Linked DNA regions of Homo sapiens. The protein of the gene in region 2 interacts with the protein of the main gene of each other region in a pairwise test. Each region holds a gene or a part of one and is shown on either strand. Other genes may lie near its edges.

What was found.
Region 1: the proteins of SELENOS (region 2) and APOA5 interact in binary tests that used the Homo sapiens proteins (3 or more experiments, as listed by UniProt).

The regions. Positions count from the first base shown.
Region 1 is NC_000011.10:116,788,828-116,796,231, forward strand, and holds APOA5 (apolipoprotein A-V precursor), read right to left. Parts: upstream 3,053-7,404; 5' UTR 3,034-3,052; coding exon 2,985-3,033; intron 2,871-2,984; coding exon 2,759-2,870; intron 2,241-2,758; coding exon 1,301-2,240; 3' UTR 540-1,300; downstream 1-539. UniProt on the Homo sapiens protein: Minor apolipoprotein mainly associated with HDL and to a lesser extent with VLDL. May also be associated with chylomicrons.
Region 2 is NC_000015.10:101,270,200-101,274,664, reverse strand, and holds the end of SELENOS (selenoprotein S), read left to right. Parts: coding exon 1-73; intron 74-169; coding exon 170-245; intron 246-1,808; coding exon 1,809-1,888; coding exon of another isoform or gene 1,889-1,894; 3' UTR 1,895-1,901; exon of another isoform or gene 1,902-2,474; intron 2,475-3,019; 3' UTR 3,020-3,856; downstream 3,857-4,465. UniProt on the Homo sapiens protein: Involved in the degradation process of misfolded endoplasmic reticulum (ER) luminal proteins. Participates in the transfer of misfolded proteins from the ER to the cytosol, where they are destroyed by the proteasome in a ubiquitin-dependent manner.

The DNA.
Region 1 (7,404 bases), on a different chromosome or scaffold from region 2:
GAGGAAAGGGGGCCGGACAGGGAAGTCCAAAGACAAGGAGCTGTGTTTACCCTTTCCACGTCCTCCACCACACCCCAGTTTCAGTTCCCAGGGGATCTATAGGGAGCATTGGTGCCCCTGAGTGAGGGGAGTCCCCAGAAGAGAGTCCGGCATAAAAAGAGGCCATTCAAACTCTAGAACAGCAGGAACAAAGGAGGCAGCCCACCTCAGGAATCTTAGGTCCACCAGGGCCACAGCTCTTCCAGACACAGCCTGCATTCCATGCACAGTGTCCTGTGGGGGAGCAGGCTAGTGAACAGTGCAGGTGCAGAGGAAGGGCCCGTAACCCAGGCCCTCCTGCCAGGTGTGACAGACAGCCGTTGTCTAGCCAGGATCCCTGAAGCAGAGCCCAGCCAGACCCCCTTTGACAGACCTGGACTGGGAGTGGGTGGATGAGAAAGAGCAGCAAGGGAATGGAGTGGGTGATGGGTGTGCTTTGGGGATAGTGGTGAGGCCACTGCTTTCAGACATGGTCCAAATGAGAGTCACGCCAGGCAAACTTCTATCATAAACATCTATTTCATTTGAGCCAGAAGTCTAGGCTTCAACTTGGGAACCCAGAGGGAGGGGCTGGAGATGGGGAGAGCACACAGTATGCTCCCCAGAGGGTTTAAGGAGCTCCCACAGTTGGGAGGGTTCAGTCCCTTATTTAGGTGTAGAGCTATGTCAGGAAACATGGGCTCTGCCCTCTCCTATCACAGCCCACACCTTTCGTACCCACCAGCATCAGAGCCAGCAGGGATATTCACACACCATCACATGTTCTCCCCATGATATTCTCTTTCTCCCTTCTATTCCCCTGATAGCTGCCATGGCAGCCCTGGGGAGACAAGTGCTCCTCTCTGTGGACCAGCTGTAGCAGTGGCCACCAGGCAGCCAGAAGTGACTAGAGCCAAACTCCAGGATGTAGTGGCACAGGCTTCCAGCATCACGGCAAACAGGCTTGCAGATAATCACCCACATGCATGGTGCCTCTCCCTCCCTACTCCCTCACCCTTGAATGGAGTAACTCATGAGCATTCCCAAATGAGCACTGGGAGGCTGGGTTTGCAAAGCCTGGTGAATGTAATGCATCCAGATTGGGGAGTCGCAGGAGGCTGGATGTGCAGGAGACAGCAGCCCCTTTGGTGGCCTCCCTGTCCTGCACAGGACCTTCCACCCTCCACCCAACAGGCCACTTTCAAGGACTGAACCATGCTAGAGGCTCAGAGCCAAGGCTCCCCAGACAAGGAGCTGGGAATGGGCCTGGGCAGGTAGATCCTCAGGGGTCCCCCAGATGGCTGTGGCCCTGGTCATGAAGGCTGTGAGTGATGTCTTCCCACAGGTCATCCAGACGGGCCTGCAGCTTGCTCAGAACCTTGCCACTGTCTGTTTGTTGAAACTCTGGGGCGAAGGCACTGTGGCCTGGTGGAGGTGGCGCCAGCTGCTGCTGGACCTCCTCAGTCTCCTGGTCGATGGCGCGAGTGAAGGCAGCTATCTGCAGGTAGGTGTCCTGGCGGAAAGCCTGAAGTCGCTGGCGCACCTCCTCGGAGAGCATCTGGGGGTCCGGGCCGGCCCCTTCCTCAGTCCCAGTGCCTGCAAAGGCTCTGCTGAGCTCTTCGCGCAGCTGGTCCAGGTTCTGCTGGATGCGTGCGTGCAGGGCCTTGGCCTTGAGCGTGAGCTTCCGGGAGAGCACCTGCACGCAGCGACTGAGGCGCGCGGGGCTGGCGGGGGCGTGCGGAGCCACACTGCGGTGCAGCTCCTGCACGTGGCGCCCGATGCCGCTCACCAGGCTCTCGGCGTATGGGTGGAAGAGCTCTTTGAAGCGGCCGGTGTGGTGCACCACGCGGCTCTGCAGTCCCTGCAGCAAAGCCCAAGCCTCGTCCACGCCCCCCAGCAACTGGGCCTTGGTGTCTTCCCCCACCACGCGCAACTGCTCCTGCAGCTCCTGCACGCGCAGGGCCACCTGCTCCATCAGATCCATCGTGTAGGGCTTCAGTTGCTGCCGCAAGCCCTCCAAATTCCAGCCCACCAGCTCGTGCGCCTCTGCCATGTAGGGCTGGAGGCGAGCCTTCACCTCCTCCAACTCCTCCTGCAGCTGCCGCCGCATGCCCACCGGGTCCTGTGGGAGCCGAGGAGCCTCGCTCCCACTCAGAGGCCTCAGCTTTTCCAGGAACTTGTTCATATTGTTGAGGTCTTGCTCAAGGCTGTCTTTCAGGGTCCTGGAGAAGGGGACAGATATCCAGGCCGTCAGACTGCTAGCCTCCATCATCTCCTTTGTCCCCAAGTCATCGCGCACTGATCCTCTGGGGGAACCAAGGACGCAGGGCGTTGGCCCCAGGGTCGAGGGCTCTTGTCCTAGCCCTGGCCAGTAACAACTCACGCACGAAGCACAAACACATTGCCCATACAAATCCAGACCTACAACACTCTCCAAAGAAACATAGATGCGCCACATCATCCTTTGATTCTGGGGACTGCAGCGGGCGTCCTCCCGATTGATCCCAGGTCCCGCGCCTCAGTGAGCAAGGGGGCAACAGCTACGGAGTTGTCAAGGCGGGGGCTGCAGGCAGAGGGCGCTAAAGAGCCCAGGATGGCCGGGATCTGCAGACAGAGCTAGCACCGCTCCTTTCCTCTGTCCCAGCAGCGGCCACAGAGGTTGAGGCAGCAGAGGCAGGTCATCATGGCATGGCCCAGCTGTCTCCTCCCTTCGCCTACACCCCTTCCCCTGGGCACTCACGCGGGCTCGCGAGCCATCTTCTGCTGATGGATCTGCTCCACCCTGCCTTTGTCCCCGCTGGTCTGGCTGAAGTAGTCCCAGAAGCCTTTCCGTGCCTGGGTGGCCGAAAACGCTGTGGAGAGGGACTAGGTAATCAGGGCCTGGGCTCTCCTCCCCCAGGGTGGACAGGGCCCTCTGGCCAGCCTCCACCCACACCCCCACGTTGAAGTCAGGGTCGGAGACCCACCTGAAAGAAGAGCCAGAGCCCAGGTGAGCACGGCAGCCATGCTTGCCATTACCTGCTCTGAGAAGACAGGTGGAGGGAGGCCTGGTTAGGGGAAGAAGGAGACGAAGGGACATGGCGCAGGGGACTTGCCCAGGGGGCCTCTGCAGGGGCAACTGCCCGAAATCCTGTTACCCCTTCCTTGGGCTGGGGAGCACAGAGCTGTTGGGGCTCAAGAGGACTGACCTAGGTGAGTCAAGGAGGCTAGGGTGTCTTCCTCAGACATGGGAAGAGGGCGTGCTCTTGCTACCTCAGTCACATAGCAGGGAGCGTGGTGCTCTAACCCCTTCGCAAAGGTCCCAGACCCCAGGAACAGTTCTCTAGGCCACTTCTACCACCTCTCCCCTGCCCACCTGTCTCCCTCCCTCCCATTTCATGGTGGAAAAACTGAGCCATAATGAGGGCGAAGAGGCAACTCTGCCAAAATGTTCCAAGAGGACGTCTTAGGGGCCACCCCAGGCTCTCCCCTGAGGCCACCTGCAATGCCCTCCCTTAGGACTGTGACCCCCATCCCTCTGCCCCAGCTGCTCACCTGCTCACGTCTGGGCACAGAGAGCAGACATTCTGCTTTATACTCCAGGGCCCTGAGCCTCTGGCACCAATTGCTCTGAGTAAATACCACGTGGAAGTTCAAAAGAAGTTGACCTCAGCTGCCTCCCAGCACTCACCTCCTGCCCTTTCCCTGGCACCCAGAGGGTTAATGAGTGCCCTGGTATCAGGGGCTGCCCCAGTAGAGAAGTGCTTCCCAGGAGCTTTACGGGGGATGGGGCTGAACTCCTCACCCAGTTTCTCCCAAACCCCATGACCTTTAACCTTCCCACTGACCTGCTGGCTGGCCCACCAACAGAGAAGAACCTGTTTGTCTGCCAAGGGCCCCTCTCTTACACAACTACCCAGAGTCACTGTGTCCCAGCCGGCAAGATGGACAGTGTTCACCTACCAGCCAGAACCCGAGCAGCCCCTGAAAGCTTCACTACAGGTTCCGCAGGCATCCTCAGCCAGCATTCATAGGGTTAAAGACCAACCACATCCCTCTTTATGAAACAATCCTGGAACAAGCAAGGGAAGCCAGGCAGGGTGAAGATGAGATGGCAAGAGGCATCTGGGCCAGGGACTCTGAGCCCCAGGAACTGGAGCGAAAGTGAGATTTGCCCCATGAGGAAAAGCTGAACTCCACTCGCAGGGCCTCTGAGGAGAGCAAGCCCAAATGCTCAGATCTTCTCTGATGACACACCCACTCCGTCTACAGTACTCATACACACGTTCACAAGCTCCCGATTCTTGGTCCTAAATGCATCTTGAATCAATCCCCTCTCCTCCATTTCCACTACCATCATTGCACCAGTTGTCTGTCACCTTGATTGCATTCATAGCCTCCAACAGGTCTTTCTACCACACTCCTGCCCATTTAATTCATCCTCCACTGTGGCTCATCCTGACTCATTTCCAGTCTCATCTGCTGCCACATAAAACCACGGCATTCCCTGAGCCTTTATACAGGCTTCCCTCTGCTTGAAATAGCCTATCCCCTGGTGAATATATATTCATTTTTTAGAGTTAGTTTGTATTAGTTAGAATTAGACTTGGCTGCAAGGGACATATATATGTGTGTATATATATACACACACACATGTATATTTTATATTCTTGCATACATATATGTATATATATGTGTGTGTGTATATATACACATATATATATACAAGATACTGCTCTTACCACTCATACTGACATCCCATTGGCCACAAGTTAGTCACATGGCTACACTTAGCTGATATATATGTGTATATATATATGCAAGAGAATAGCTTAAACAAAATGGAGTCTTATTTCCTTCTCATGTAAATGTAGGCCAGCTCGGGCTGCTTTTATCTTGTTGCACTATTATCATCAACAAGACGCTCATATCCAAGTTCCAGCTGCTTCACCTCCAGCTACCAAGTTCACCTCCCAGGGAACAGGAAGGAGGAAAAGGAGAAGGACATGTTCCTTCCTTTTAAAGACACATCCCAGATATTGCCATTACCACTTGTACTGACATCCCATTGGCCACAACTTAGTCACATGGCTACACTTAGCTGAAAAGGAGGCTGGGAAATATAGTTTTTATTTTGGATGGCTGTATGCCTAGCTGAAAAAGGACTCTATTACTCAGGAAGAAGAGAAGAAAGGATTTGAGGGAACAGTAGTAGCCCCTGCTACACAGCTCCAGTATCACTCTGAATGCCTTCTTCGGCCTTCACCTTTTTCTGCTCTGGAGATAAACTGATTCCACATTATTCACACAACACTGTATATTCCTGGATTATAGCACTTACTATCTAACTGCACAATAATTTGTTGATGAATCCGAGAGCTCTTTGAGTGCAGGGGCTTTTTCTTATTCATCTCTATATCCACTAGTATGTTTTGCACAGTGCCTACCTACTACATACAAAGTTAAGTGACTGAATTCAATCATTCATTTGATTTAGGAACTGAGGTTTGAGGAGATCAAGTGGCCTGTCCATCATCACGCAGTAAGAGTTGCAACCAGAATCAGAACCCAGGTGCTTGGCTCTGGTGGTTCAAGAGAGCAGACTATGACCAAGTCACAAAGGGGCTTGTGCAAGCAGTCACTGAAAGGTACATGATGGAGAGATCACTCAGGAGGGTGGCCAGAGAGAAGGCAGAGGAACTATTTAGGGATATTTTAATAATCCAAGTGAGAAATGAAGGCCTGAAGTATGGCATAGCAGTGATGGTTGATAGGTAAGTATATATTGAGGGCTACTAAGGCAGCAGAGTTGATAGCACTTGGTGACTGATTGGATGAGGAAGGTGAAGGAGAGGAAAAAATCCCAATGATTCCCAGGTTTCTGAGCAACTAGGGGGATGATATTTTCTTTCACCAAAAAAAATAAGCAGGTTGGGACAGGAAGTGAGAGCTCAGATTAACAGGAGTCCTAACTCGAACCTAAGCTGGGTTTCAGATAGGCATAGGGCAAGCCCAGTTGAGGTCTATTTGCTTAATGGCTAAGAAGCCTCCTAAGAGAAAATTCATTTGAAAGGAAAAAAAGCAACAGGAGCTACCATCCAGTCACAAAACCACAGTCATGAAAAGAGAAGAGAGACTCAGAGTATTTGGGAAGGGAACATTTCCAGGGGTTGAAAAAATGTGGGAGTGGAGAGCCACTGAAATTGACTTTGGGTGATTACTTGTACCCACAAGCTAGTGTGGCCTTGTGCCCAAAGGCTGTCCACTGGAGATGTTCTGGCAGTTGGATACATATGTCTCAAGCCCAGGAGAGAAGTCTCGGCTGGAGACTGAGTTTTGGGAGTCATCAGCAGATAGGAGCAGTGGAAGACTTGGGAGTAGATGAAATCTCTAGGGAGAGTACATGGCAGGAGAAAAGAAAAACGCTGAGGTCAGAAAACACCAGTATTGGCCGGGTACAGTGGCTCACGCCTGTAATCCCAACACTTTGGGAGACCGAAGCAGGCGGATCACTTGAAGCCAAGAGTTTGAGACCAGCCTGGCCAACACGGTAAAACCCTGTCTCTACTAAAAATACAAAAAAAATAGCCAGGTATGATGGCACACGCCTGTAATCCTAGCTACTTGGGAGGCCAAGGCTGGAGGAGTGCTTGAACCTGGGAGGTGGAGGTTGCAGTGAGCTGAGATAGGGCCACTGCACTCCAGCCCGGGTGACGGAGCGGGACTCCATTTCAAACAACAACAACAACAAAAGAAGCCTTTGGCAGAGAAAATTAACGCTTTCCAAAGATCCATGTGCTGTGCTGTACTTCCCAGACTCCTTTGCAATTAGATTGGGGCCATACAGTTAGTTCTGGCCAATGGGCTGTGAGCAGAACAAAATGGGTTACTTCTGTTTGAGGACAATGAAGAGTGGATGTGAGTTCTCCATATTTTTTCCTTCCTTCCCCTACAGTGGAAGCAAAGAACTCCAAGCTGGCACTATTACAAGAGGGAGAGGGTCTATATTCTGAGTTAGTGCTTGGAGCAGCACCTCCCACCTAAAAGAGGGGCAGAGAAGTAGAAGTATAATCAAAATAAAGAAGAATCACAGAAAGAAAATATATTAGTTAAATTATATATTTGGCTGCTCTGAGAGAGACCCAAAATAACAGTGGCTTACAAAAGCTGGAAATGTATGTTTTCTCCCATACAAAACTTCACGCTGGTATGGGAGCACTGCTCCACAAAGCTGTCCAGGGTCCTAAGTTCCTTCTGTCTGGAGGTTCTAATATCCCTATGTGTTTCCCTTGTCCACATGATCTAAGATAGCTTACCACCATGTCCACATCCAGCCACTGGAAAGGGGGCAGGGTGGAGGAGAGGAGAGTGTAGAATGTACTCTCCTTTCTTTCTTTTTTTTTTTGA
Region 2 (4,465 bases):
GAGACAGAAGATTGAAATGTGGGACAGCATGCAAGAAGGAAAAAGTTACAAAGGAAATGCAAAGAAGCCCCAGGTGACTGGAGACCTCGGCCGGCTGGCATGCGGTAGATGAAGATTGCCAAGTAGAATGTTTTAATTGCTTCTTACACTACTGTGTGTGTTCAAACAGGAGGAAGACAGTCCTGGGCCTTCCACTTCATCTGTCCTGAAACGGAAATCGGACAGAAAGCCTTTGCGGGGAGGAGGTAAGCACCACTGATGTCAAATGTTAACAGATTTTCAACACTTACAGGATATAGTTACCTTTTAGGAACAAGATTGTTTGTTTCTTTGTCCATAAATTAAGACTAATTCCTTAGGATTGTGAAGATTCAATAAAGGAAACAGATGCAAATCACCTCCTAGGTCCTCACTAAGTACTTAGAAGGATTGTACTTATAGTATTCTAACTTGATCCTTCTGCAGCCCCGTAGAGGGAGAGCTAAGTAGGGTGAGGAATTGTCTGCCAATCTTCAGATGAGTGTCAAGGAGCTGGAACACAGTGGTTTTGGTCTTTCTGGCTGGGACCACCTTGTTTCTTGCAAATAACAAGGAGTAGCAGACAGATGCTCATCCAAAGCTGCTTCCTGTGTGCAGCACTGCCCCGGGGACTCTGGATGATGCCACAGCAGTCTGTCTTCATCCCATCCCTGAGAATTTCAAATCTGGGAAGATGGGACTCACAAACGAAAATAAGCAATCCTTGGTGATTCTGGCTAAGAGTTGCAAGTTACTGCTGAGGAAGGAAAGAACAAACACACTAGAACACTGTAGGAACCAAGGCGGAAGATTTTGTATCCTCCATAGGAGGAGAGGGGCACCGCAGAGGCCCTGATGGTGTCTTTGAGGACTGAGGAAAGACTGGGGCATGGGCTCCAAGGCAGCAGGGCCACAGACTTGGCTGACCTTAAACGCTGAGCTGTAATCCCCTTTGTGTCAGAAGACTAAACCTGGCTTGCTGTAGAGAAGGTGATGCATCTGGAAAGAAAATGCTATTTTTAAATGGTCCTGCCGGAAGCTTATTTTTAGACACATAGAGGTGATATTTAGGAGAGGAATGGAAATCGTAGAAGATGGAATGCAGGGTGTGCTTGCCTGCACGGCCTCTTTCAGCATCCCCAGCATTTCTGAGCTGGGACTTTTGACTAGCCTGGCTTTACAAATAAGGAAACTGAGGCACAGTGTTTAATTGCCCAAAGATTCCACTATAAGTAAGGAGTAAAAGTAACATTTAAGTTCTGGGTGGCCCTAGAACCTTAGCACTCAACCAGGTTACCAGTTGTGCACTGACTTTGGGAAGCTCATGAGGGAGTGGGGTGGTTGGGGGTAGGGAAGGATACAGAAGACCCCGTTCTGACTGGTAGAAGTGACAAGTTTGACTCTTGATTTTTTTTAATCTGTTTTCTGTAGCGTGAACAGCCCTTATTTGAATGTATGAGTTTTAGTAAGCACTGTGATAGGAGGATTCATATACTTAAATCAGGCCCTCTTGAGAGAGTTTTTTGGTGACCCTTTTGCATGTGTTTCGGAGGTTGGGACAAAGAAGCTGAATGACTTTTTTCCCCACCAGACAATCAGTTCAAATGGCAATCACAATATAAAGGTTTTTTTTTTTTTCACATAGCTAAAAGGTTTTTTTAAATGTCCCTTAGGATCTGTATCTTTGCAGTGCTTTGCGTGTCACTCTCATAATTTTATTGTGGATATACAATGTTCCCAGATTTTCAGATTTTTATCAATACTGTTGTGCTGCTTTTCTGTCCTCCCAGGTTATAACCCGTTGTCTGGTGAAGGAGGCGGAGCTTGCTCCTGGAGACCTGGACGCAGAGGCCCGTCATCTGGCGGATGAGGCTAAGAATCTTGTTAGTGTCACTTTTGACATTAGCAAGATGAACCCTTAACCCTCGATTCAATTGCCTTACGCACGCTTTTCACAGTGACTAGCCAAGGGGAGGTGGGGTTGATTTCTGTTCCTAACTACACCTGCATATGTCAGGGCTCCAGTCAGCAAAAGGTATAGATGTTGCCTCTAGGCATGAGGTCATTGGTCACATTCTACTTGGAGACAGTGATTGCATTCATTGATTTCATGGTTAATTGCTAGTTGGTAGGTAAAGGCCTCTAGATGATTAGCAATCTTGATAAAAGAGGCCTAGTAATGTTCTTTTGAGGTTAGAAATCCTTGCTGCTAGGACAGTCTCTGTGACAGGTTGCGTTGAATGATGTCTTCCTTATCAATGGTGAGCCCACCAGTGAGGATTACTGATGTGGACAGTTGATGGGGTTTGTTTCTGTATATTTATTTTTATGTACAGAACTTTGTAAAAACGAAACTATTTAAAAAACAAGAATAACATTTTTAGCATCTTTATTCAAGGAGATTTATGGACTTCAATTTGTCTATCAAACATTAAATAGCTTTTTATTACAACCTCTAACTATTACTTATTTCTCTATTTATTATTACTCACCCAAAATAAGTCTGGCAAGTGGCAGACAGCTGCCGTGATTTTGAAAGTTGACAGACTCCTTGGGGTTCATCCACAAAATTGGGTGCTTGGAGTCGAGTTGCCGAATTACTGGGATAAAGAAACATCGTGCCTCAAGGTTCCTCATAGGCTGACCAGGTTTCTACGTGACCTCTCAGTTATTCCCTTACGCCATGACTCATCTTTTACGCTCTTGTCCAGAGGCACTATCAGCAGTTTTGGATAAAGAGCCAAACAGTAAATATTTTAGACTTTACAGGCCACATATGATCTCTGTCACATAGTCTTAGGTTTTTATATTTTTAAAGGATTGTTTTTAAAAAAGATTCTCTGCTCATGGGCTGGATTTGGGCTGAATGCTGTAGTGTGTGGACCCCGTCTAGATCATCAGAAGGAAAAACATTAACCTTCAGAATAGGGGGTAATTCGCTGCAAAAGTACTATAGAATGGTCTCATACATAAATTAGTCAACATTTGTTATCTCCTGCAGGTAGAATATTCCGTGGTTGCTTCTTGACCAAGGGAAATACAGTCTGGCTGTGAGAGACTTAAAATCTCTTGAGGAGCGCTCTGGAGAATGGCTGAAGGAGAGGAAACAGGAGCCTTGAGCAGTGTAATTACAAACAAATAGGTTGGCATAGTCTTAAGTCTTTGAGTCTAGAGAGATTTGAGTTTTGTTTTGCCTGTGGAGGCAATTGGGGGTTTCAGGTCAAAGAGAGGGTCAGTGGAAACAAGGGTGGGCCTTGTGAGGTGTGGGGAAGCCCTGGGACCCTCACTCCCCTTCCAGTGTGTAACTGGATTGGCTCCCACCAGCCCAGAAGATTTACGACGTGGGAAATGGTATACTTGGATTAAAATATTTCATCCAGATTTGTTTACATCTAGAGAGAACCCCTTGTAGGTTATAAGGAAACTTTTTAACATTCTTCCTTGAATATATTTTCTGTAGCTGAAAATGTTTGTGAAGTGGCTGTCAACTACACATCGCATGAGTAGAGGGGCTCTGGGTCGGGGTTTCATATGCAGCAGAGCAGCTCCCTTGCTGCCGTCCATCAAGAGCCCTCAACACAAGAGTTTGTTATAAATAGAAATAAACGACAAAAAGTAGAGGGGTATGTTTAAGTACACTATTAGATGTGACTGACTACCTTGAAACCTGATTTTTTTCCATGGGGAGAAACAGTGCTTGAATTCTGCATGCCCCCCTTGCATCTAGCACCTTTTGGTAGGGGTGGAAGGAGGGTGTCAGGGAGAATGATTAGGAGATAATGGAGGGGAGGGGAAACTTGCGTTGTGTAATAGCATTTGAAGAGCACTTACCACGTGGCAGGAGTGTCCATTTCTGTTTGATCCCCCTAGAATCCTATGAAACGGGTATGTTACTAACCTTGGTTTTCAGAAACTGAAGCTTAGATGGGCTTAGTAACTGGTCCACAACGCTACTCGCTGTAGTCTACTTCATCCTTGTGTTCATATTAGCCAAAGGCCTTAAGTCATCAAGGTGTGGGAAGCTTCTTGCAGCTAATGAAACAGTTATGTGGCCAGGCACAGTGGCTCACGCCTGTAATCCCACCAGCCAAGATGGGTGGATCACCTGAGGTCAGGAGTTCGAGACCAGCCTGACTAATATGGTAAAACCCTGTCTCTACTAAAAATACAAAAAATTAGCTGGGCATGATGGCATATGCCTGTAATCCCAGCTCCTTGGGAGGCTGAGGCAGGAGAATTGCTTGAACGTGGGAGGTGGAGGTGGAGGTTGTGATGAGCCAAGATCGTGCCATTGCACTCCACCCTGGGCAACAAGAGCAAAACTCCATCTCCAAAAAAAAAAAAAAAAAAAAAGTTATGTGAAGTAATAATACAGTGAAAATCACATTACAGATCTAGGGCATTAAGCATTTCAGAAAGGTGGACTGAGCTTGCCAGGGAAAGCAGG